2 separate regions of the Homo sapiens genome follow, and region 1 is linked to region 2. The links come from fine-mapping of genetic effects on gene expression. A gene starts in region 2. The other region holds a variant in brackets. All regions are shown on one strand. Distances are from middle to middle.

Region 1 (12,061 bases), 24 kb after region 2:
TGAGCCGAGATTGTACCACTGCACTCTAGCCTGGCCGACAGAGCAAAACCCTGTCTCAAAAATAAATAAATAGGCCAGGTGTGGTGGCCCAAGCCTATAATTCCAGCACTTTGGGAGGCCGAGTTGGGCAGATCACCTGATGTCAGGAGTTCAAGACCAGCTTGGCTGACATGGCGAAACCCTGTCTCTACTAAAAATACAAAAATTAGCTGGGCGTGGTGGTGTGTGCCTCTAGTCCCACCTACTTGGGAGGCTGAGGCAGGAGAATCGCTTGAACCCAGGAGGCGGAGGTTGCGGTGAGCCAAGGTTGTTCCACTGCACTCCAGCCTGGGCAACAGAGCAAGACTGTCTCTCTCCAAATAAATAAATAAATAAATAAATAAATAAATAGCACTTTTTGGCCAGGGGTGGTGGCTCATGCCTGTAATCCCAGCACTTTGAAGGAGGCCGAGGTGGGCAGATTGCTTGAGCCCAGGAGTTCAAGACCAGCCTGGGCAACGTGACAAAACTCCATCATTACTAAAAATAGAAAAATCAGCCGGAAGTGGTGCCCGCCTCAGCTTCGAGGGTGCAACGAGCCGAGATTGTGCCACTGCACTCCAGCCTGGACGATGGGAGTGGGATCCTGTCTCAAAAAAGAAAAAAAAAGCACTTTTCCACCCTCTTCTTGGGCCTTTTTTTTTTTTCAATGGCTCTGTAAGGATCACAGCCCAGTCTTCAATGTTTTATCTGTCATCTTTGTGTTCTTGTGTCCTGGTGCAGTCTTTGATCAACCTACCTTAGAAACTGAGTTAGGAGATATCCTGTAGATTATTTTATACTGAGTTTGCCCTGGAGTAAGAAGGAAACGAACCTAAACTCTGGACCTACTGTAGTGAAACGAGAATTGCCCTGTGTTTCTTCCTAGGTTCAATGTGGCTTAATTGTGGTGGCCTACAAAGATGGATCACCTGCCCACCCACATTTCATGGATGCAGAGCTCTGTTCCCAGTACTGGACCAAGTGGCTTCTTCGACTAGAAGAATATACGGAAAAGAAAAAGAACCAGAATATTCAGAAACCAGAATATTCAGAATAGGGAGCAAGTTGCTATTTGGGAACATTCAGCACCTTCTCACAGTTTGGGAACATATATTGCTGTTTACTCCAGTGTAAAAATGAGGTGCCACTGGATCTGAGTGCTACACGAACACAAGTAGAAGTATTAATTTGTTGAAATGTGTTGTTACCAAAAAGACTGAAAAGCCCCAAAGTCTAGATATAAAGACCTAGACTTCGGCACGCGAAATCCCAGCTATGCTACCTCTTATTTACCTGAAAGGAGGACACGCAGGATGGGCAGTCATGCTGGTGACTCTTGTACTCCCTTGAGGGACATTGGGGGGGGGGGGGCGTGGTCCCAGGCAGGATGCCCAGTCTTTGAGCTGAGATTGGAAGGCAGTGAGGCTGAGGGTGCCAAGATTTCCCCAGGGTTCACCCAGAGGGGAAGGGGCTACATGCCCCCAGCTGTGTGCAGGGAGGACACATCAGCCCACTACCGCTGCCAACACCAATGCCTAAAACTTGTTTCATACATTGGGGTTTTCTATATATTTCAGCTGGGAAAAGCTTACATTTAACCTTTTGAAAAAATAAATACGTGATTAGCCTCAACTAAACATTGCTGACTATAAAGACAGTATATTCACCATGTCGCTGGCAATATGTCATTGCGTAACACCAAATAACCCCCCAGAAGTAGCCAGAGGCCAGTTTGAACATCACAATTCTAAGTGTTTTAGTAACTATTTCTGGCGTGAGTCAACAGATCATGTAGATAGAGTCAATTATTGTTTGTGGAGTTTTTCAGCTATAGGGGAGGGGAACTATTAAAATCCATTTGTTTCTATTCAATAGGTAATAAAAATTAGTTGTCCCTGGGTTTGGGAAACTTAAATGCCCATTACAGCCCTGGGGAAGGGTTTTCTGTCTTATGGAGTGAGTCTTAGCATTTAAGTTATACAGTTGCTGCCTTAAAATAGTAGCCTGCTACAATGACTTCTTTGGGTAGCCATTTTCATAAGAAATAAAATACAAGATATGAGTAATGAAGCTTTGGTTTTGTTTACTTTGTGTGTTTATAGGATAATTTTATAAACCTGGAAATTGTTTGCACTTTTTTTATAATTCAGAATTTTACAAGCCCAATAGCTTTGGTGAGAGTTCTGTGTAAGTGCATAAAAGAAAGCGTCCTCGGCTGGGCGCAGTGGCTCACGCCTGAAATCCCAGCACTTTGGGAGGCCGAGGCGGGCGGATCACAAGGTCAGGAGATCGAGACCATCCTGGGTAACACGGTGAAACCCCGTCTCTACTAAAAATACAAAAAATTAGCTGGGCGTCGTGGCGGGCGCCTGTAGTCCCAGGTGCTCCGGAGGCTGAGGCAGGAGAATGGCGTATACCCGGAAGGCGGAGCTTGCAGTGAGCCGAGATCACGCCACTGCACTCCAGCCTGGGCGACAGAGCGAGACTCCGTTTAAAAAAAAAAAAAAAAAAAAGCCTCCTCACTAAGCCCTCAGCCACGGTCACCTAGCAAGGAAAGCAATATTCAGGTAGGAGATGGGAGGATCAAGGGGGACCTTTGTATTATCTCTATACACTTCTGCATTCATGTGGGTTTTTCTCAAGCTGCAGATACATATTTCTGTAGCCTGTAAATTCCAGTCAAAAATGAAGTGAGGCAATTAAAAGTTGTGCTAGCAGAGTTTGCCACTCTGCTCTAATAAGCCTCAACCTAGAATTTAGGAGGCTAGACCTAACAAAATTTCTTTTTATTTTTCTTTTTTTTTTTTTTTGAGACCATCTGGCTCTGTCAGCCAGGCTGGAGTGCGGTGGGCTCACTGCAGCCTCCGCCTTCCGGGCTCAAGCAATTCTCCTGCCTCAGCTTCCCAAGTAGCTGGGATTACAGGCGTGCACCACCATGCCCTGCTAATTTTTGTATTTTTAGTAGAGACAGGGCTTCGTCATGTTGACCAGGGTAGTCTCAAACTCCTGACCTCAGGTGATCCGCCTGCCTCAGCCTCCCGAAGTGCTGGGATTACAGGCGTGAGTCACTATGTCCAGCTGCAAAATTTCATTTTAATACAGGTGTTCTGTTATGTAAATAGAAATTTGTCTCAGACCTGTGACTTTGTACTAGGAGTCTCCCAAGATAATGGTGGCCTGAAAAGTTCTATGAGGGAGCCCCTCAGGAGAGTGTGACCAGGAGGATGTGGTTGGTATAAGAACAGAGAAGGTAAATCCCTGGGCAGGTTTTCTTGACCTCAAGGGCTCACCAGTTTCTCCTGATAATCATGATACTCCTCGGGGGTCACATCTCCTGAGATGTTAATGTCAACGGAAAAAGTTATTGTTACTACGAAAGCATAGGAGGAGAAAGTCAAATTTGAGTTTCTAAATGAGTTGCAGTTTTTCAAGAATTAACATGTATGAGGCAGTGGCTTACGCCTGTAATCTCAGCACTTTGGGAGGCCGAGGCGGGTGAATCACTTGAGGTCAGGAGTTCAGGACCAGCCTGGCCAACATGGTGAAACCCTGCTTCTCTACTAAAAATTAAACTAGCTGGGCCTGGTGGTGCACACCTGTAGTCCCATCTGCTTGGGGAACTAAGACGGGAGAATTGTTTGAACCCAGGAGGCAGAGGTCGCAGTGAGCTAAGGCCACGCCACTGCACTCCAGCCTGGGCAGCAGAGCGAGTCTCCGTCTCAAAAAAAAAAAAAAAAAAAAAGGAATTAACACGTATGTTAGGAATTGTTGGTTGCCATCTCTTTGCCGAAGTGAAATACTGCATATGAAACTCCAGTGAAATGAAACAGCATTCAAAATAAGGAGAGACGCTCAAGGATAATTTACATTTTTTTAAAGGAGGTGTGTGTATATTGCTTTTCTGAGGAGGCTTTCTCAGAAGTACAGAATGTTGCCTTCCAGTGTTTAGTTTTGAGAAAATCCGTTGGCTTCAAAGCTAACTGCATTTCCTTTTCCTCCACAGTTCTACCCATTCTTACCAATGCAGTCAGCAACTGACAGAAGTTCCATGCTGACACAAAAGCCAATTTTGTTTTTTCCAAAAAAAAAAAAAAAAAAGTATAAATATATACACATACATGTATGGCCTTTTTCCTCCTTACACCTGGCCTCTTCCTCAGAGCCTGATAATCTGAGAACATTAGCCTCTATAACCCTATTATAATTCTAGGAAAACTCGTCAGTGTATGACCTACGGTTTCATATGTGTTGACCTTGGTAAATACAGGAAGGGGGTTAGTCATAAGTCAGTGTGTTCCTAGGTAACCAATTTGGCTACTGGCTTTAAAAGGAATTGGAGAAGGGTACTTTGTTTTAATCACTGAGGCTTTCCACCCGAGCAATTAAATATTTGATTATAACCTACCCTGTGTTCCTGCCCACCCCTCAACAAAAGAGTGAAGGAAGGGAATCATTGGAGTAAAAAACATTAAGAAACAAAATAGAGAATAGTTGAAACTTCCATGTTTAAAGAAACAATAAGTTGTTTGGAGCTATGTGTTAAATCACTCAATGCTAAGTAAAAAGTAGAACTGACTTTTCCTTCCTGCCTCCCTTCCCGCCAGCAGAGGCCTAAAAGTTAAGCAGATATGTGCTTCTGCTGGAAGTCTAACCTACTGATCCACTTCAGTTATTTATACTATTGAAGGGAACTAGAGAGAATCTCTGGGGAGAGACCCCAGAATGAGCAAAAGGCTTGTATGTTGCCATGACAATAACAATTGTCAGGTTGAGTAATGCATTTGTGAAGATCCAATCATAAAAAGATGGCCAGGCACAGTGGCTCATGACTGTAATCTCAGCACTTTGGGACGCTGAGGCAGGCGGATCATTTGAGCTCAGGAGTTTGAGACCAGCCTGGGCAACATGGCAAAACCCCATCTCTACCAAAAATACAAAAAAGTAGCCAGGTGTGGTGGCATGCACCTGTGGTCCTAGCTACTTGGGAGGCTGAGGGAGGATCGCTTGAGCCTGGGAGGTGGTGGTTGTAGTGAGCCAAGATTGCACCACTGCACTCCAGCCTCAGCAACAGAATGAGACCCTGTCTCAAATAAATAAATAAATAATGTTTTGGGTTCAGATTTGAGGGTTTTTTCCCATTTTACTTAAGAAATAGATATAAAATATGTAGATTGTTACAGGCCAGGTGCAGGGGTTCACACCTTGAACCCAATGCTTTGGGAGGCCAAGGCTAGAAGATCGCTTGAGGCCAGGAGCTGGAGACCAGCTTAGGCAACATAGAAAGACTCCCATCTCTAAAAAGTAAAAAGTCGTGTAATCCCAGCACTTTGGGAGGTCGAGGCAGGCGGATCACGAGGTCAGGAGATCGAGACCTTCCTGGCTAGCACAGTGAAACCCTGTCTCTACTAAAAATACAAAAAATTAGCCAGGCGTGGTGGTGGGTGCCTATAGTCCCAGCTACTCGGGAGGCTGAGGCAGGAGAATGGCATGAACCCGGGAGGCGGAGCTTGCAGTGAGCCAAGATCACGCCACTGCACTCCAGTCTGGGCGACAGAGCGAGACTTTGTCTTGGGAAAAAAAAAAAAAAGTCGTTGGGCATGGGGGTCATGCTGATAGTCCTAGCTACTTGGGAGGCTGAGACAAGAGGATCACTTGAGTCCAGGTGTCCAAGGCTGCAGAGAGCTATGATCACACCACTACACTCCAGCCTGGGTGAGACCTTGTCTCTAAAACAAACAACAACAACAACAAAAAATAGACCAGGCCAGCGCGGTGTCTCATGCCTGTAATCCCAGCACTTTGGGAGACTGAGACGGGTGGATCTTCTGAGGTCAGGAGATCGAGACCAGCCTGGCCAACATGGTGAAACCCCGTCTCTACTAAAAATATAAAAATTAGTCGGGCGTGGTGGTGGGCACCTGTAATTCCAGCCATTTGGGAGGCTGAGGCACGAGAATTGCTTGAACCCAGGAGACAGAGGTTGCAGTGAGCCAAGACCATGCCACTCCACTCCAGCCTGGGCAACAGAGCGAGCAAGACTCAGTCTTCTAAAAAAAAAAAAAAAAAAAAAAGCATTACAGATAAAAGCTGTTGCCTTGTTTTCTTAATCCCATTTCCCTCTCCCCTGAGACAAATGCCGTCATAAATTTGATGTGGGTTTTTTTGTATAGTTTTACTGTGTGTACTGGTTTCCATGTATAATATAGTTTTGCTTTCTGTGTTTTTAGATTTACTTGCTTTATCTCAACTTTGTTTTTGAGATGTCTCCAGGTTCACCAATTCTAGATCTTTCATAACTGCTTTTAACTCCTCTGCAGTTCTCCCTCCTGTTTTATTGTCATGCTAATGGACTGTTCGGTTAACAGTGTTTTGCTACTCCAGACGATGCAGCAGTGAACACCTTTGCACGTGTTTTCTGGTACACACAATACACATGCAATATAGTGGAAAGTGCAGTATGGATTGTGACTCTGCCACTTACTAGCTCTGTGACCTTGGACTAGTTACTTGACCTTTTTTTTTTTTTTTTTTTGAGAGGGAGTCTCACTCTGTCGCCCAGGCTGGAGTGCAGTGGCACGATCTCGGCTCACTGCAAGCTCGGCCTCCAGCGTTCACGCCATTCTCGTGCCTCAGCCTCCTGAGTAGCTGGGACTATAGGCACCCGCCACCACGCCCGGCTAATTTTTTTTGTATTTTTAGTAGAGACGGGGTTTCACCTTGTTAGCCAGGATGGTCTCGATCTCCTGACCTCGTGATCCACCCACCTCGGCCTCCCAAAGTGCTGGGATTACAGGCGTGGGCCACCGCACCCGGCCTGTTACTTGACCTTTTTGTGCTTGATTTCCTCATCTGTAATTTGGGGGAAAATAATAGTATCTGCTTCTTGAAATTGTGAGGATTGAATGAGCGAAGCATTCAGAAAAGTGCCTGACACATGGTGGGAACAAAATGTTAGCCATCCTCCTATCAAATGATCAGACCTGGATGTGTCTCTGCTGGGTCAAAGCTTGAACATTACCACCAAATTCCTCTCCAAAACAGTGACATCGACTTAATGTCCCACCAGTGGTGTCTGAAATTTCCTGATTTCTCGCATATTCTCTAACACAAGAGTTGTGAGCCCCTCTTCTGACGGTATGAAAACCATTTTTTTTTTGGAACAGCATTAACGCGTGAATAAAATCTGCTTTAAAACGCGACTGTCATCTAGTGGTGAGAGAAGTACACTGCAATTATGGGGCAGAAGCCAAAAATGGGCGGACCTACATCTATCTCCGGGTAATTTGGGCATTTTAGTCACCAACACAGGTCTGTTTTGAATAAAATCAACTACATGAGTGTTCTTCCTTTACCTCTGTATTTTCAGGCAGCTTGTACTTCTCACTTTTTCTACTACAATAATATAGAAGCCTGGCTACACAGCCCAGTGAGGCCCCTTGCTACCAAATGCATCTGGGTCACCGGTTCGGAAAAGTGGAGTGAGATAAA[G/T]TAGAAATGAGGCTATTTACCAAACTGGTAGGAAACTGCAGCTCCAACCAGGGCGGGCTTCCCACAGGCAGCACTGATTTTCCAGCAGGAGAGATGGCAATTCCCACGTTGGTGCAGGTCATACAGGCACTGCAGGGGACTCAGCTCAGTCGGCTCACCAGAGCCCCAGTTAATGCGTCCCAATCAGCCTCAGCCATTCTCTGCGAGGACTTCTAAAAGGATTGAAAAGTGTATGAAAGTGTTAGATATTAATCATCAGAGACATAGATATAGTTTTAAAGATCTGTTAGATAACAAATATTATCTAACAGGTTAGGTAACATGCTACAATTTTGTGATGAACAAAAATGTTCATTAAAGGTAATAGTGTAAAAAAGCAATGTTGCTGAAATGTAACCTAATGTGTCTTTAAGTAATAGTATCACTAAACTAATGGCATATTAAAAGTTTTTTAAAAAAAGAAGCCGTGTGCGGTGGCTTGTGCATGTAATCCCGACATTTTCGGAGGCTGAGGCTGGCAGATTGCTTGAGCCCAGGAGTTCAAGACCAGCTTGGGCAACATGGCAAAATCCTGTCTCTACAAAAAATACAAAAATTAGCCAGGCATGGTGGTGCACACCTGTAGTCAGGCCCAGCTACTCAGGAGGCTGAGGTGGGAAGACCACTTGTGCCTGGGAGGCAGAGGCTACAGTGAGCCAAGATCACACCACTTCACTCCAGCCTGGGGGACAGAGGGAGACCCTGTCTCAAAAAAAAAAAAAAGTTAAAAAAGAAAACAAATTCTAAAGAACAGCAAGCTAAGGTCAACTGTGATTAGAAGCATTCATTTAGGCAAGTCTAGACTGTCCTACTGCACCAGTCTCACTCATTTCTAAGCTGTTGTTTGTGCTGACACCTTTGCATAAAATAACTTCCCTTCCTCCCTTTGTTCAGCCATATCTTGCCTGAGAGCTTGGGCCTGAACCGCAATCCCACTGATGATCTGCTCAAGTCTTACCTGCTCCACAGGAAACAAAATGGTATAGGGCAGGAAGCAGGAGCCTCAGAATTGGGCAGAGGTGGGTTCAAATCCTGCTGTGCAATGCTAAGTCACTTCAGCTCTCCATGCCTTTTTCCTCACTAGTAATTTGGGGAAGAGTATTAACCTCAGTGTTCCTGGAAAGATTAACATAGGAAATGTGTGACAAATGCTGAACGTGGAATAGGCACTGGGCAAAGATCAACTACTTCCTCCGTGGAACCGACTCTACCCTTCACTGAACTCTTGTGGTGCCTTTGTTTTTACCACCCACTTTGATTCTTGTTCATATTCTACCTTTTTCTGTTACTTCACTATTTCAGATGTACATGTAACAAACACAGTGAAACCCCGTCTCTACTAAAAATACAAAAAATTAGCCGGGAGTGGTGGCACATCCTGTAGTCCCAGCTACTCAGGAGGCTGAGGCAGGAGAATCGCTTGAACCCTGGAGGGGGAGGTTGCAGGGAGCAGAGATTGCACCACTGCATTCCAGCCAGGGCGGCAGAACGAGACTCCGTCTCAAAACAAAAACAAACAAACAAACAAAAAGACAAAAAAAACTACTTATTTTATATCTATTTCTTAAGTAAAATGAAAAACAAAAAGAAAAAAACTCTCAAATCTGAACCCAAAACATCTTTTTATTTATTTATTTTTTTGAGACAGGGTCTCATTCTGTCGCCAAGGCTGGAGTGCAGTGGCACAATCTTGGCTCACTACAACCTCTGCCTCCTGGATTCAAGCGATTCTCTTGCCTCAGCCTCCCGAGTAGCTGGGATTACAGGTCATTACCACCGCACCTGGCTAATTTTTTGTATTTTTAGTAGAGACGGGGTTTTTTCATGTTGGCTGGCTGGTCTCGAACTCCTGACCTCAGGTGATCCATCCACCTTGGCCTCCCAAAGTGCTGCGATTATAGGCGTGAGCCACCATGTCTGGCCCAGAATAGTGTTTTAAGAGAGAGATGAGTAAAGAGACAAACAACAGAGGAAACTGCCATTTCCTAGAGCAGCAGAAAAAGAGCTGGGTATCAGAATGGCTCACCAGAGAAATTTGGTTAGTGCTGGTCACCCCTTTGATAAGAGGCTGTGGGTTGACTTGTGAGCTCAGTGATTTGAAAGTTTTGAGTATATGAAGAAAAAAAAAAGAAATGAAAGCTTTGTGTAGAACTAGGGGAGTCTCGCAGTGAAACAAGACTTGCAAAATAGGATTAATGAGGCAGTACAGATAAGGATGCGATGCTGAAGAAAGTCATGGGATTGTAGTTAGACGGTGTATAAATCAGAGAGCTAAAACCAATAGGGCTTGTAGATATAGGTATATGACAGGGGATTTATTAGGGGAATGGGCTCACACAATTATGGGGGCTGAGAAGTCCTACGGTCTGCTGTCTGCAGGCTGGAAAACCAGGGAAGCTGGTAGCATGGCTCCGTCCAAGTTCAAAAGCCTCAGAACCAGAGAACCTGATAGCACTCAGTCTCAGGCCGAAAGCCTGAGAATCCAGGAGGCCACTGGTGTCCCAGAGTCCAAAAGCTGGAGAAGCTGGAGTTCTGATGTCCAAGGGCAGGAGAAGAAGGGTGTTCCAGCTCCAGAAAACAGAGCAAATCCTCCTTTCCTTTGCCTTTTTGTTATCCTGGCCCTCAGCTGATGGACGGTGCCCCCTGACATTGAGTGAGGATGGATCTTCCTTACTCAGTCCACTGATTCAAATGCCAGTTTCTTCCAGAAACACCTCACAGACACCTCAAAATAATGCTTCGCCAGCTGTCTGGGTGTCATTAATCCAGTTACGCTGACACCTAAGATTGACCATCATAGGTGGTAATTCATTCCTTTACCCGACAAATGTCTTATTGAATATTCATGTCTGCCTTGTGCTAGTTTTTTGCAAAATGCATGGAGCTGACAGTCTAGAGAAAGGGCAAACAATTAATAAGTGAGAAAGTTAGTATGAAAATTACAGATTGACAGTGCCATGAAGAAACAGAGGATCACTGAGCCAGGAGGAGAATTGCAACTTTGGATTGTGTGGTCAGAGAGGGCTCCTCTGAGGGGCGACACATAACATGATACTTGAAGGAGGAAAGGAGGAAACGTGGCCAGCACTGCAGAGAGCCACAGGAAGAATATTCCAGCAGAAGGATCAGCATGTTCAAAGGCCCCAGGGTAGGAAAGAACAGCATGTTACAGGAGCTATAAGAACACAGGGGTGGCCAGAAGGCAGTGGGGAAAGGAAAGGAATTGCAGGCTGCAGAAGTGGGCGGGGGAGCCAGATGATGTCAAACTCAATATGCCATGGTAAGGAGTTTAGATTTTACTCTAAGATGGAAAGACAGGGATAAGCAGGGGAATAAAGCCATTCCATTGCCTTTTAAGAAGAGCGGGGCCAAGTGCAGTGGCTCTCACCGGTAATCCCAGCACTTTGGGAGGCCAAGGCAGGAGATCACTTGAGCCCAGGAGTTCGAAACCAGCCTGGGCAACATAGTGAGACCTCCACCTCTATTTTTTTTTATTTTATCTTATCTATTTTATTTTATTTATTTTGAGATGGAGTTTTGCTCTTGTCGCCTAGGCTGGAATGCAATGGCGCCACTTCGACTCACCGCAACATCTGCCTCCCAGGTTCGAGTGATTCTCCTGCCTCAGCCTCCCGAGTAGCTGGGATTACAGGTGCATGCCAACGCCACCATGCCTGGCTAATTTTTGTATTTTTAGTAGAGATGGGGTTTCACCAGGCTGGTCTCGAACTCCTGACCTCAAACGATCCACCTGCCTCGGCCTCCCAAAGTGCTGGGATTACAGGCATGAGCCACCGTACCTGGCCTAATTTAATTAAAATTATTTAAAAGACGAAGAAGAAGAAAAAGAAGAAGAAGAGGAGGAGGAGGAGGCGGCGGCGGCAGCAGCAGCAGCAGAAGCAGATCAGCATTGTTTGGAGAGCAGAATGCAGGAGGCAAGTGCTGAAGCACAGCCTGGCTGGACTATTATAGACAGAGCTATTATAATAGGAGTCAGCACACTGGCTCATCCACCAAATCCGGCTTGCTGCCTGATACAGTCTTTATACGGTCTGTGAGCATAGAGTTGTTTTTACATTTTTAAATGTTTGGAAAAAAAATCAAAAGTAGAGTCTTTTTATGGCATATATAATTTTTATAAAATTGTAAAGATTCGAATTCCAGTGTCTGTAAGTCAAGGTTTCCTGGAACACAGCATCACCCATTTGCTTTTGACTCTGGCTGCTTTCCTTCTGTAGCTGCAGGTTAAGTCGGTAACAGAGGCTGTATGGCCTGCAAAGCCTCAAGTATTTACTATCTGGACTTCTATAGAGTAAGTCTGCCGACTCTCAGTCTAGATGATAGAAGAGGTAGGCTGGCCTAGAGAAATGGCAGAGGAGGTGCTGGGAAGGAAGATTCGAGATGTATTTTGGGAGCCTTGCCTGAGGGTTTGAATGAGATGAGTGATGAAGAAGTATAAATGGAAGGTAAGTTGTAGGTTTAGGGCATGTGTGTTATTTGCTGACATGGGAAA
Region 2 (11,843 bases):
GCTAATTTTTACATGGCATGTTATTTCCTTAGGCAAGATTAATAGAAAACCTGAAAAATTCGCAACAAGCACACAAAGACTAGCTTCTGTAACACAACCTGACCCCACCCATATCACACCATTTTAGAAGGAAGTCCGTTTAAACCAGTGATTCTCAAACAGGCAATTTTGACTTCTTATCACCATGGGAGGGGAGGAGGCCGCGTCCTAGCAGAGGCCAAAAACAGTTGCTTCACATCCTACAACCCAGAGGGCACTCCTCAACAAAAGTGATCAGGCTAAAATGTCAACAGTGCTCCCCAGGTTGAGAAACTGAATTTTAAACTCAACCTCTAGTTTAGATGACCACTAGGTCTCACCGAATGAGGAGTTTACAGCTCAGAAACAAATCTAGAAAACTTAACAGCCTTGGCCAAGCACAATGGCTCATGCCTGTAATCCCGGCATGTTGAACTGGATGGTGAAACCCCATCTCTACCAAAAAATACAAAAATTAGGTGGGCATGCTGGTGTGTGCCTGTAGCCCCAGCTACTCAGGAGGCTGAGGTGGGGGTGATCACCTGAGCTCCCCAGGTCGAGGCTGCAGTGAGTTGTGATCGTGACACTGCACTCCCGCCTGGGTGACAGAGCCAGACCCTGTCTCAAAAAAAAAAAAAAAAAAGCCTCTTGGCCATTTCTACCTATGGCCAAAATAATGTGAACAGATAATGACCTTTTAGAGTATTCACAAATGGGGATCTTAAGACACCGAGTACAAGTTACTGAACTAGAACTAAGGCGTGGGAAGCTTGATACGTCATACTTCCTCAACTTAGAAAATAGTTGCAAGGGTAGCATAAAGCTTCAGTCCACAAAGTTTGTAAGTTTGGACTTGCTATGGTATTGGTCAAAGTTCAGGATTGTTCCTATACTAACCAACTGCACTCCATTCTAGCTAATGGAGAACAAAAATACCCCTAGAGGCAGCTTCCACACCAGTTAAACACGAAACCAGAGCAGCAGTACTTAGTCTACAAACACTCCTGAGTAGGTAAGAGGACAGATATCATTCACCAAAGTCCCTGTAACCAAGCAGTAAGTTAAGGCCAAGTTGTTACTGTCAAGGAAGGAGAACCCCCTAGTTAAAAATAGCACTAGGCTGCGAAGGTCGAGTTCAAATACCAGCCTGGCCAACATGGTGAAACCCGGTCTCCACAAAAATACAAAAATTAGCCGGGCATGGCGGTGAGCGACTGTAATCCCAGCTACTTGAGAGGCTGAGGCAGGAGAATCGCTTGAACCCAGAAAGCGGAAGTTGCAGTGAGCTGAGATCGAGCCATTGCGCTCCAGCCTGGACGACAGAGCGAGACTCCGTCTCAAAAAAAAAAAAAAAATCAAAAACCAGTAAATAGAGGACCAGTTAGGAACCAAATTAACCATGCATCTCTTCCCCTGAACTATTTTCTGAGGAAGAAGGCAAACCCCAACACCCTCGGCTAAAGAATGTAACAAAATGCCAGTGTCTGGCTACCAGACACGACTGACACAGTATTCCCTTTCAGTTTTGCTGAATTGGCCAAAATGAGTATTGGGCTAGAATTCAAAATCCTGAAGAATCAAGTATGTCCCCCTACCTTAGTGAGTCTTAATTAACTCCATCCTTAGGGAGAATTCCAAACCAAAGTAAATTATCAGGAGGGCATTTAAACAATTTAAGTAACACACATTTCAGGTAACACACAAAACATTTCAGTTGACTACCGAAATTGTATTATGGCAAAAAGTTGCCCAAGACTTAGTTTCCCATTATTTCATACTTGCCCCAAACTCCCTTTCAGTTAACCATAACACCATCTAGGCCAGACCACAGCAGGTTATCAGCATCAGCAGAGATCAGAAAACAAAAATAAAGCCACGCGTCAGGGTAATTATTTATTTTTATTGTCTCTTTATTCCTGTAATGTAAAAAGGAAAACAATGTCATGTAACTCTCTTCGCTACAGATACGGACAGTTTCTGTAGCCTCTAAAACAGGCAGGAAATGGCCTTCATAACCATTCTCCAATTTTGCTGGAGGATCAGGGTGGTGGAAGTCATTTTAAAAACCAGCTGCAATATACTGTACTACCAGAGAGTGGGGTGAAGCAATTGAGTCCTTTTACCTAGCTGACTCCGAATCAAGACAGCTAAAAGAATGTACCAGAAAGAAAGAAAAAATAAAATGCTACCAAAATCCCAATCCATTATCTACCCTTTATGGAGAAAAGTACCTTTATAATGTTTTACAAAGAATCGTGGTCTCAAGTTTCCACTTTGTTTTAGTAATAAAGAACTTTCAAAAAAAAAACCACTCTAAACAACACCCTCCTGTATAGAAAGCTCTATTTTAATAATTAATGCAATGATACCCTTGTTGGAACAATCCAGCCGCTTTGAAACTCTGGTATTTACTTACTAGATGAACAAGTTTCTCTATGGAGGTGCCTTTAACTTCTCAAGAAATGTGTAAGTTAAGACGGCTCCAAATTACATTTTAAGAGAGCCTTGTATTTTTAGAGGTTCTTTTTCATCGGTCAGAAAAACTTACGTTGACGATTCTGCAAGAAAGGTTGCTCGCAAACCATGCATCGCAAAGCTACCGAGGCAAATTTAAAGAACCAATGAAAAAGAGTGGAGGCTCGTCTGAATCTTTAATTGGCTATGGGAATTTCAATTTATTGCATAAATAATCTTTTAGACCTCAAGATACACGTGACCTAGGGACAGTTTACATCAATGGGCAAGACTTAAAAATAGACACCAAGTTCAGCAAGTATTTGAGCACCTACTAAAAATTACACAACTCCCACAACAACGCATTTTGCGTTTCTAAAGTTGTAAGCAGCATGTTCGGACGCTTGATGCAATTTCCCAAGTTGTTTGGGCCCCCCCCCCAAAAAAGTCTTCTCAGTAAAAGGTGGGGGGAAGGAGGGTATTTTGGGGGCAACAAACCAAACTGGTCTGTCGCATGTTAAGTCAATTTCACGTTCACCTACTGGTCACCACGAAGCCGAGGAAAGTTTTAAAAAGAACATTCCGGGGTCTCCAGAGATCATCTCTCCAAGTCCGCTCGGCACCGGCGCCTGAGCTGGGGCTAAGGTCCCGCGTCTCTGGTTCTGTCCTAATAGAATCCGGGACATCCACAGGGATTCCCCGGGGCAGCCTTCAGTGAAGACCAGGGAGAGGGGCCGCCCGGGTCTCACGGGTGCTTCCCGCGCTGGGGATGGCGGCGAGCAGCCACGGCCTATGGACGCGCAAGGGAAAGAATGCAGCGACCCCGGAGCTCGCAGGGCCGCCCGCCCAGGAGTCTGAGGCTGGGAGGACCTCACCTTGCTGCGGTCCTCCTCCTGCTGCTGCAGCAACTCGGGAACCGCGGCCATGGCGACGCGGGACTCGAGCAGGGGCCGCCTGGCTGTGCGAGGAAAGAAGAAGCTGGGCCGCCGCCGCCGCCGCCTGGGCGCCTCTCGGGGGCGGCCACGGCCCCGCCTCCGCCGGCCTCCCTGCCCGACGGCGGCAGGAGGCCTCCGGACTCCGCCACCATCCCAGCTGCCCCGGGAGCAGGCGAGCAGGGCGCCACGTGCTCCCCCAGAGCAGCCTCCCAGTCCCCGCTGCCGTCCATCTTGGAGCCGGGCAAAGACGCCACGTGGGGCCTACCCTTGCTCCGCTCCACGAGGAGGCCGCCAACCGCAGGGCCGCGACACGGACGGGAAGCAACGGACACTCTCCCAGCAAGACGCGTCTAGAGAAAGACCGCGTTTCGGTGCGGGGGGAATTTATTACTCAGCCCGAGTCCAAGATGGCAGCGAGCGCTGACGTCACCAGATCTCGTGAGAGCAGAAGGGCGCGATTTGGAGGCTCCCGCGCTTCGGAGACGCCGGCCCTTCCGCTCGGAGAGGTACTCCCTGCCTCTAACTGGTGGCGCGTTGGCGGAGGCCGACGAAAGCCTCGGGTGGGGCGTGAGCGCCGCGGGGCATTCTGGACCTGCTTTGCCTTAGGCTGTGCCTAATTCGAAACCAAAGCGCGGGACGGATGAAAGTACGGGTCGCGAGAGGTTGTTCGCGCCTTGAGAGTTAAGCGAAGTGTGGTGGCTTCCAAGGTACCGACACTTGCCGTAGGCTGGGCTTTTATTTAAGTCGTCTTTTCTCTAATCCAGACTCCTGCCACAGGGGCCACCGCCGTCCTGGCCCCGCCAGGGGTCCGCACCCACGGCGGAGCGGGAGGCGACTTTTTGCGGTCACAGTAATGGGACCTCAGCGCCGCCACCAGCTCTGACCGGCGAGCGACGGGACCCTCCAACCCGATTTCCACGTCTGTGCAACGGGTTCATTCTAGACCCACGGTAGAGGGTGTGAGGACCAAATGAGAAGTATCCACACAGAATACTTAGCAGAGAGCCTGGTGTCTAGGAATTAGTCGTCGTCTGTCACCTAGGACTGTGTGGCCGCCATGGGACGGGCTCCATCTTTGTGTTTTTCCGTGTCTCGCACACGCCTCCCTTCCTGGGCGTCACATTCCTGCAGATTAGAAACTGGGACGTCTTGCCTCAAGCTGTCTACTAATTCGCATTTAGTATGTGTCGGTCCTTCGGGTATTGAGTCTTGATTTATTTATAAATTTTTTTTGGAGGCAGGGTCTCGCTCTGTCGACTTTCTTAAGAAAGGGCTCTGTCCAAACATGTCGAAAAAGTTCACAATTTTGATGTGCAATATCATTCTGATGCAGCTTTCGCTTTGATGGTTGTTTTCTCTCCAATAGGAATACAAACATAAAGGCCTTCGACCGTTGCAAATAGACTAAAGTGAAAACAAATCTGAATGAAGATGAAGTTATTTCAGACCATTTGCAGGCAGCTCAGGAGTTCAAAGTTTTCTGTGGAATCAGCTGCCCTTGTGGCTTTCTCTACTTCCTCTTACTCATGTGGCCGGAAGAAAAAAGTGAACCCATATGAAGAAGTGGACCAAGAAAAATACTCTAATTTAGTTCAGTCTGTCTTGTCATCCAGAGGCGTCGCCCAGACCCCGGGATCGGTGGAGGAAGATGCTTTGCTCTGTGGACCCGTGAGCAAGCATAAGCTGCCAAACCAAGGTGAGGACAGACGAGTGCCACAAAACTGGTTTCCTATCTTCAATCCAGAGAGAAGTGATAAACCAAATGCAAGTGATCCTTCAGTTCCTTTGAAAATCCCCTTGCAAAGGAATGTGATACCAAGTGTGACCCGAGTCCTTCAGCAGACCATGACAAAACAACAGGTTTTCTTGTTGGAGAGGTGGAAACAGCGGATGATTCTGGAACTGGGAGAAGATGGCTTTAAAGAATACACTTCAAGTAATTATCTCAATTCTGATTCTATATGTTTGCTATGTTTTCTATAATAGAGAGCAACGGTGTCAAAAGAATGAGGTTTGGTTTTGTTTTTTTAACTTACTAGCAAGGAACTCCCTTCAGATAGTAATTAACATTAAATAGCACTTTATGTGTATTAACTCACTTGATCCTCATGGTAGTCCTGTGGAGTATAGATACTGTTATCCACATTTTACAGATGAAACTAAAATAGATCAAATATTTGACTAAATAATACATAAAATTCACTTGTTTTATAAGCTACCAACAATATTAGAATTGCTTGTTTTCCTTGATTATTGAAAAAAGTCACCTGGTAACAGAATTCTAGTTGTTTGCTAGATAATTCTGTTTAGAATCCAGTAAATACCCACTGTCCTACTTATTAGCGTAAACTGACTCGTAAATTTAAAGACCTTGAAGCAGACCAGAACACATGACCTATATTTAGACCTTGGTAAACATAATCAGAGGTTCTTCATAAGGATCTGAGGATAAATACACTTTAACCTTCAACTTCTAATTTACTAACTTGGACAAGTGAGGAGAATAGCTTCCTTAAATTTAATATTCCATTCAAAAACAAAGACCATTGGCACTGGTGAATTAGCTAGTCCCATAAATTATATAGGGGTCTTTTGTTAAAGGAAAGTTTCACATCAATCATTCCTTTACCCAAGCTTCCCAAAGTGCAGTACATGTACTCTTAGTAGTACACAAACTCTTTCATTTTTGTTTTAAGAATAGTGTACTGACCCTTGCCATAGCCTGGGCTTCTATTTAAGTCGTCTTTTCCCTAATCCAGACTCCTAAAACTATGCGTGTAACACATTAAACATGTCACATGTTCTAAAGAAAAATACTAAGTATATATAGGTGGTATTGGATATGTACCAAATGGTCAAGGCCTTTGCTCCTTATAATATTCCTCAGCTGTGTGGGGCAAGGATTATATATGCAAGAGCTAACTGCCTTCCTAAGATAGTTAATTAGTAGCAACCACCAAACTATTGTCTGCTTTCCAAGCAAGCAACATAAAAATCTTCTAATGGCATCTTACAGTTTTGTATTTGTACCACTAAAATTTAGAATTGATAGTTTTCTCATGAGAAGTTATTTTCCTTAAACCAGGAATGTACAGCTGAAATTACTAATAAGAAATGTATTATTAAAAGGCAGAAACCTGCTGGAACACATGGGACCCCAGGGCCTGTAGCTCTTGGCACAAAGTAAGGAAGTGCACCAGAGAGGAATTTCTGTTTGGAATGTGAATGAGCCCCAATAGCCCAGGCAGAGAGAAGACTGGTTGTTTTTTTTTTCATAGAGTCAGCTTTGTTGATCTAGATTAGCACTCAGCTGTGTTTCTCAGTTAACTCAGTAGCAACCTTAAGAAATGAGCAGAATCGCTTACCCCAGCACCCCGCCCAGACTTGACCGCCGGGACCCAAGTGATTCTCCCATCTCAGCCTGCTGAGTAGCTGGGACCACAGGCGTGCACCACCATGCCTGGCTAATTTTTTTATTTTTTGTAGCGACAAGGGTCTCCCTATGTTGCCCAGGCTAGTCTCCAACTCCTGTCTTCAAGTGGTGCTCCCACCTCGGCCTCCCAGAATACTGAGACTACAGGTGTGACCCACTGTGCCCAGGCAGAATCACTCTTTTTAGAAAATAAGTATTAGTAAGCAGTGGGTTCTGAAATAAATAAAGGGACAATTAGTGTCATGGTGAATAAAAGAAAAAGGGCTCACTAAATTGATTAACGGGTCTGGAGGATACTGGATCCCAAACCCAAGAAGGTGGCACCCAAGAAGAATTACATTTTAAAAATTAAGAAGATTTTTTTAATGAAAAATATTGGATCAGTAATTTCTACCCAGTCTTCTCAAAGGTGAGAGCATAGAAATGTGTCTGGCATTCTTCCAAATACTTGAGCAGTTTCCCAAGCATCAGTTCATCTTTTGAAGACTGGTGGGAATGAGAAAGTCTGACTTATTCTGATTTATATTTTGTGTATAAATACACACAAAGGGATGGGGTTTAGGTTTTAATTTTTTTTTTTTTTTTTTTGCTACGCTGATTTAATCCTGAAGTATTAGCCATCCTGCCAGTTCCATCATGAGAATACTGGAGATGCATGAAGGTTTTTTTTAGTGCACTTCATATACGAGGACTTGAAAACATTTCACTTTCATTACTTTGAGTGAATAAGCAGACTTGATGCTACATGCAGTGAATATTCTTGGATCATTTTTTATTTTTATAAATTGAATCATGTTGAATGTTCTGAGCCTTAGTGTCTAAAGGATCCTGTAATCTAGGTTTTCATGTTTGTGATCATGTGTATATGAAGAACCTAGCCAGGGGTAAGTTTGCAGCGAGAAATGTATGGTCTATTGGCATGGCATTTGCTAAGTTTTTTTCTTCCTGTTTTTAACATGTTTGTCTTCTGCTTCATTAACCTAGTGTGTAGATGAATGCTATACACTTCTTTTTCCTAGGCTTTAATTCCATCAGTCATAAATTTCTTGTAGGTCTTTCACGTGTTAATAATTCCAATTGAGTCAAGTAAATTTGGAGTAGAATAACTTAGTTCCTAAGTTGAATTTCATTTAACTCTCCAAATAATTTTTCAGAAGGGATTCCATTTTTTGCTAATGATAGAATTGACATTTCCAGCTGGGCATAGTGGCTCATGCCTGTAATCCTAGCACTTTGGGAGGCCGAAGCAGGCGGATCACTTGAGGTCAGGAGTTCAAAACCAGCCTGGCCAAAATGGCGAAACCCCATCTCTACTAAAAATACAAAAAAATTAGCCGGGCGCAGCGATCACTTGTAATCCCAGCTACTACGGAGGCTGAGGCAGGAGAATCGCTTGAACCTGGGAGGTGGAGATTGCAGTGAGCCGAGATCATACCACTGCACTCCAGCCTGGAAAAAAAAAGAATTGACATTTCCATCTTTGTAAAAAATAGTTGAAGGCCGAGTGCAGTGGCTCATGCCTGTAATCCCAGCACTCTGGGAGACCAAGGTGGGACGATTGCTTGAGGCCAGGTGTTTAAGACCAGCCTAGGCAACGTAGAGAGATTGCATCTCTACAAAAAAAAAATTTTTTTGAATTAGCCAGGCGTGGTGGCACATGCCTGTAGAGGAAGCTGAGACAGGAGGATTGCTTAAGGCCAGGTGTTCAAGGTTACAGTGAGCAATGATCGAGCCAGTACACTCCATCCTGGGTGACAAGTAAGACCCTGTCTCAAAAAAAAAAAAACTTGACAAATGTAAAGTTGTTTTCCGCCTTTTCTGTGGGTCTCTCTGCAAGCATGTTCCAAGCACGTGTATTTCCTGCTCTGTTTCTCTGAGTATCTAATTGGTGATTTCCAAGATTGCTTCCTTTGCTCTACTGTGTGGTAGATTGGAAACAGATTCTGGTGCCAGGCTGCCTGTCCAGCTTTTTGCTTTGGGGCAAATTAACAGCACTGCCTGGTGGGATAGGGCCTCATTCATTAAAATGGGGGTAACTTACAATCCCTATTTTGCTGGGTTGTTGGGTTTGAAAATTAAATAATGTTTTGAAAGCTCCAAGGCCATTGCTTAGCATAACAGTCCCCCCTCTTTCTCTCCTCTTACTAAGAAACAAGTGAATATATTTCTTGTGTTTGTTGAGTCTCTTTGTGTGTTTTTTTTTTTTTTTTTTTTTTTGAGATTGTCTTGCTCTGTCACCCAGGCTGGAGTGCAGTGGCATGATCTTGGCTCACTGCAACCTCTGCCTCCTGGGTTCAAGCAATTCTCCTGCCTCAGCCTCCAGAGTAGCTGGAATTACAGGCATGCGCCACCACACCTGGCTAATTTTTGTATTTTGAGTAGAGACTGGGTTTTACCATGTTGGCCAGGCTGGTCTTGAACTCCTGACCTCAGGTAATCCGCCTGCCTTGGCTGCCCAAAGTGCTGGGATTATAGGCATAAGCCACCATGCCCGGCCATGTTCCCTTTTTTAAAATGTGTATGAGGAGGGGGCTTACTATGCAAGCGCTTGGAGGCCAACGAGCACTGAAAATGAGGAGAGAGTTCAAAAATCAAGTTAGATCCTGGGATACGCCAACAAATCCAGACACTACAGTTCTTTCGGAGAAACCTGGGGACGAAAAGTAAGGCTTTGACCTCAGAAAATGAACATACAGGAAAAATAATGTGTCCTAATGTGTCCTAATGAAATTTCTCTAGTATTCACATGTTATAAAATGTTAGGAAGAAAGAAGATGTGTCCTCCTACAAGCCATAAATCAGAATTCTAATAATCTAAAGCTAATTAGAAAAATATTACATGTTAAATATTAAATATTAGAATAGAAAAATGTATGAGGGAAAAAAATTGAGACACAGCTGAATTTTTCAGGCTGTTCCAGCACTAAAAAAAAAATACAGGAGAAGAATGTCACATATTTTCCTCTTCCTCCCCCTCCAGATTCCATAATATCAAATTCATAACTTTTCATTTGCGCATGCCTTATTTTCCATTCCTTGTTTGTCACTAATCCTGTTAGTAAAAGGATTCCCCCACCTATGTTCATAATTAAGTTTTGGTCTAAAAAGAACTACAAACAGAAGCACAGTTCCCTAGATTTCTAATTTTTTTTTATTTTATCACAGCCAGTTAACTTATTACATTGGATACTTAAACACATAGTACCATAAACTGGATGTGGTCTTGTAGCCGCCAGATCTTCAGTTTTGACTTTGGCCCAATTCTCCTAGAAGTACTTAATTTTAATTCATTTTATTACCTAACGTCCTATTAATAATCCCGTTGGTTTCAAAGTATATTCTTAGGTTTCACAAGAGGCTGAAATTTGGTCTTAGGGGTTGTCACTTAAAAATAACTAATGTAATTTTTGGCCGGGCACGGTGGCTCATGCCTGTAGTCTCAGCACTTTGGGAGGCCAAGGCTGGCAGATCACGAGGTCAGGAGTTCGAGACCAGCCTCACCAATATGGTGAAACCCCATCTCTACTAAAAGTAGAAAAATTAGCCAGGCACGGTGGCGGGCGCCTGTAATCCCAGCTACTCAGGAGGCTGAGGCAGGAGAATCACTTGACCCCAGGAGGCAGAGGTTGCAGTGAGCCAATATCGCCCACTACACTCCAGCCTGGGCGACAGAGGGAGACTCCATCCAAAAAAAAAAAAAAGAAAAAAAAATGTCATTTTTAATTGTATTGTTTCAGGGCGTTTTAGAGTATTTGTTTTTCAGTGTTAGCTTTGTTTGTGTTTCCCCCCTCCCCTTTTCCCTGATTTTCTTTTCAGACGTCTTTTTACAAGGGAAACGGTTCCACGAAGCCTTGGAAAGCATACTTTCACCCCAGGAAACCTTAAAAGAGAGAGATGAAAATCTCCTCAAGTCTGGTTACATTGAAAGTGTCCAGCATATTCTGAAAGATGTCAGTGGAGTGCGAGCTCTTGAAAGTGCTGTTCAACATGAAACCTTAAACTATATAGGTCTGCTGGACTGTGTGGCTGAGTATCAGTAAGTATGAGATTGGAGGTGAATTAATACAGCGTAGGACAGATGGTGCCTGTCAAAGGTGTGCCTGTAGGTACTGTAGCCTCTGTCTGTTTAATGTCCAGACCTTTGTGCTAGGTAAAAGAATTGGGTGGGGCGGGGTTGAGAACAGGTACAAGGAGAAGAGCCACGTAACCTTTGTCATCCAGTACTCCAAAATCAAATTGTTTGCTGGAGAAAGGTATATTCTTTGTTTGTTTGTTTTGTTTTGAGACGGAGTGTCACCCAAGCTGGAGTGCAGTGGTGCAATCTTGGCTCACTGCAACCTCCGTCTCCCAGGTTCAAGCGGTTCTCCTGCCTCAGCCTCCTGAGTAGCTGGGACTACAGGCATGCACCACCGCACCTGGCTAATTTTTGTATTTTTAGTAGAGACAGGGTTTCACCATGTTGGCCAGGCTGGTCTCAAACTCCCGACCTCAAGTGATCCATCCACCTTGGTTTCCCAAAGTGCTGGGATTACAGGCGTGAGCCACTGCACCTGGCCGAGATTTTTCAATCTCCCTAACATGGCCTGTTTGCCAGCCTGTCCTTCCCCTCCCCCAAAGCAAGGTACCTGCCATAAGATCCAATTTCATTCCTGCGTTTTCTTTCCTGTTTTTCTAAAGATAGCACCATGATCTGTTGGTTCTGAAAATCAACTCTTCCTGGCTTCCAGGCAGTGCTTGACATGGATCAGAGATCTGAACTTACTAAAGCTTCCCATGGTTGTTTTGTTTTGTTTTGTTTCGTTTTGTTTTTTGAGACGGAGTTTTGCTCTTGTTGCCCAGGCTGGAGTGCAGTGGTGCGATTTCAGCTCACTGCAACCTCCATCTCCTAGGTTCAAGCTATTATCTTGCCTCAGCCTCCCAAGTAGCTGGGATTACAGGCATGCGCCACCATGTGTGGCTGATTTTGTATTTTTAGTAGAGATGGGGTTTCTCCATGTTGGTCA

Evidence for each region.
Region 1: its variant is fine-mapped to the expression of MGME1 in blood mononuclear cells (TOPMed, PIP 0.94).

What each region holds. Positions count from the first base shown.
Region 1 is chr20:17,989,032-18,001,092 of GRCh38, forward strand. MGME1 (mitochondrial genome maintenance exonuclease 1) reads left to right here. Exons shown (of 5, transcript NM_052865.4): 5 at 908-2,091. The coding sequence ends at 1,078. Among named protein-coding and RNA genes, the nearest start is that of MGME1, 26 kb to the left of the region's middle. RefSeq lists enhancers at 7,100-7,169, 10,894-11,395. The variant G/T (reference allele first, on the strand shown) is at 7,510.
Region 2 is chr20:17,965,028-17,976,870 of GRCh38, forward strand. MGME1 (mitochondrial genome maintenance exonuclease 1) reads left to right here and starts at 3,991. Exons shown (of 5, transcript NM_052865.4): 1 at 3,991-4,114; 2 at 4,774-5,343; 3 at 10,657-10,876. The coding sequence starts at 4,833. It overlaps SNX5 (sorting nexin 5), which reads right to left and starts at 3,767. Exons shown (of 13, transcript NM_014426.4): 1 at 3,348-3,767. The coding sequence starts at 3,398. RefSeq lists enhancers at 1,183-1,262, 2,480-3,234, 3,096-3,145, 3,196-3,365, 3,235-3,989 and 4 more and a silencer at 3,396-3,605.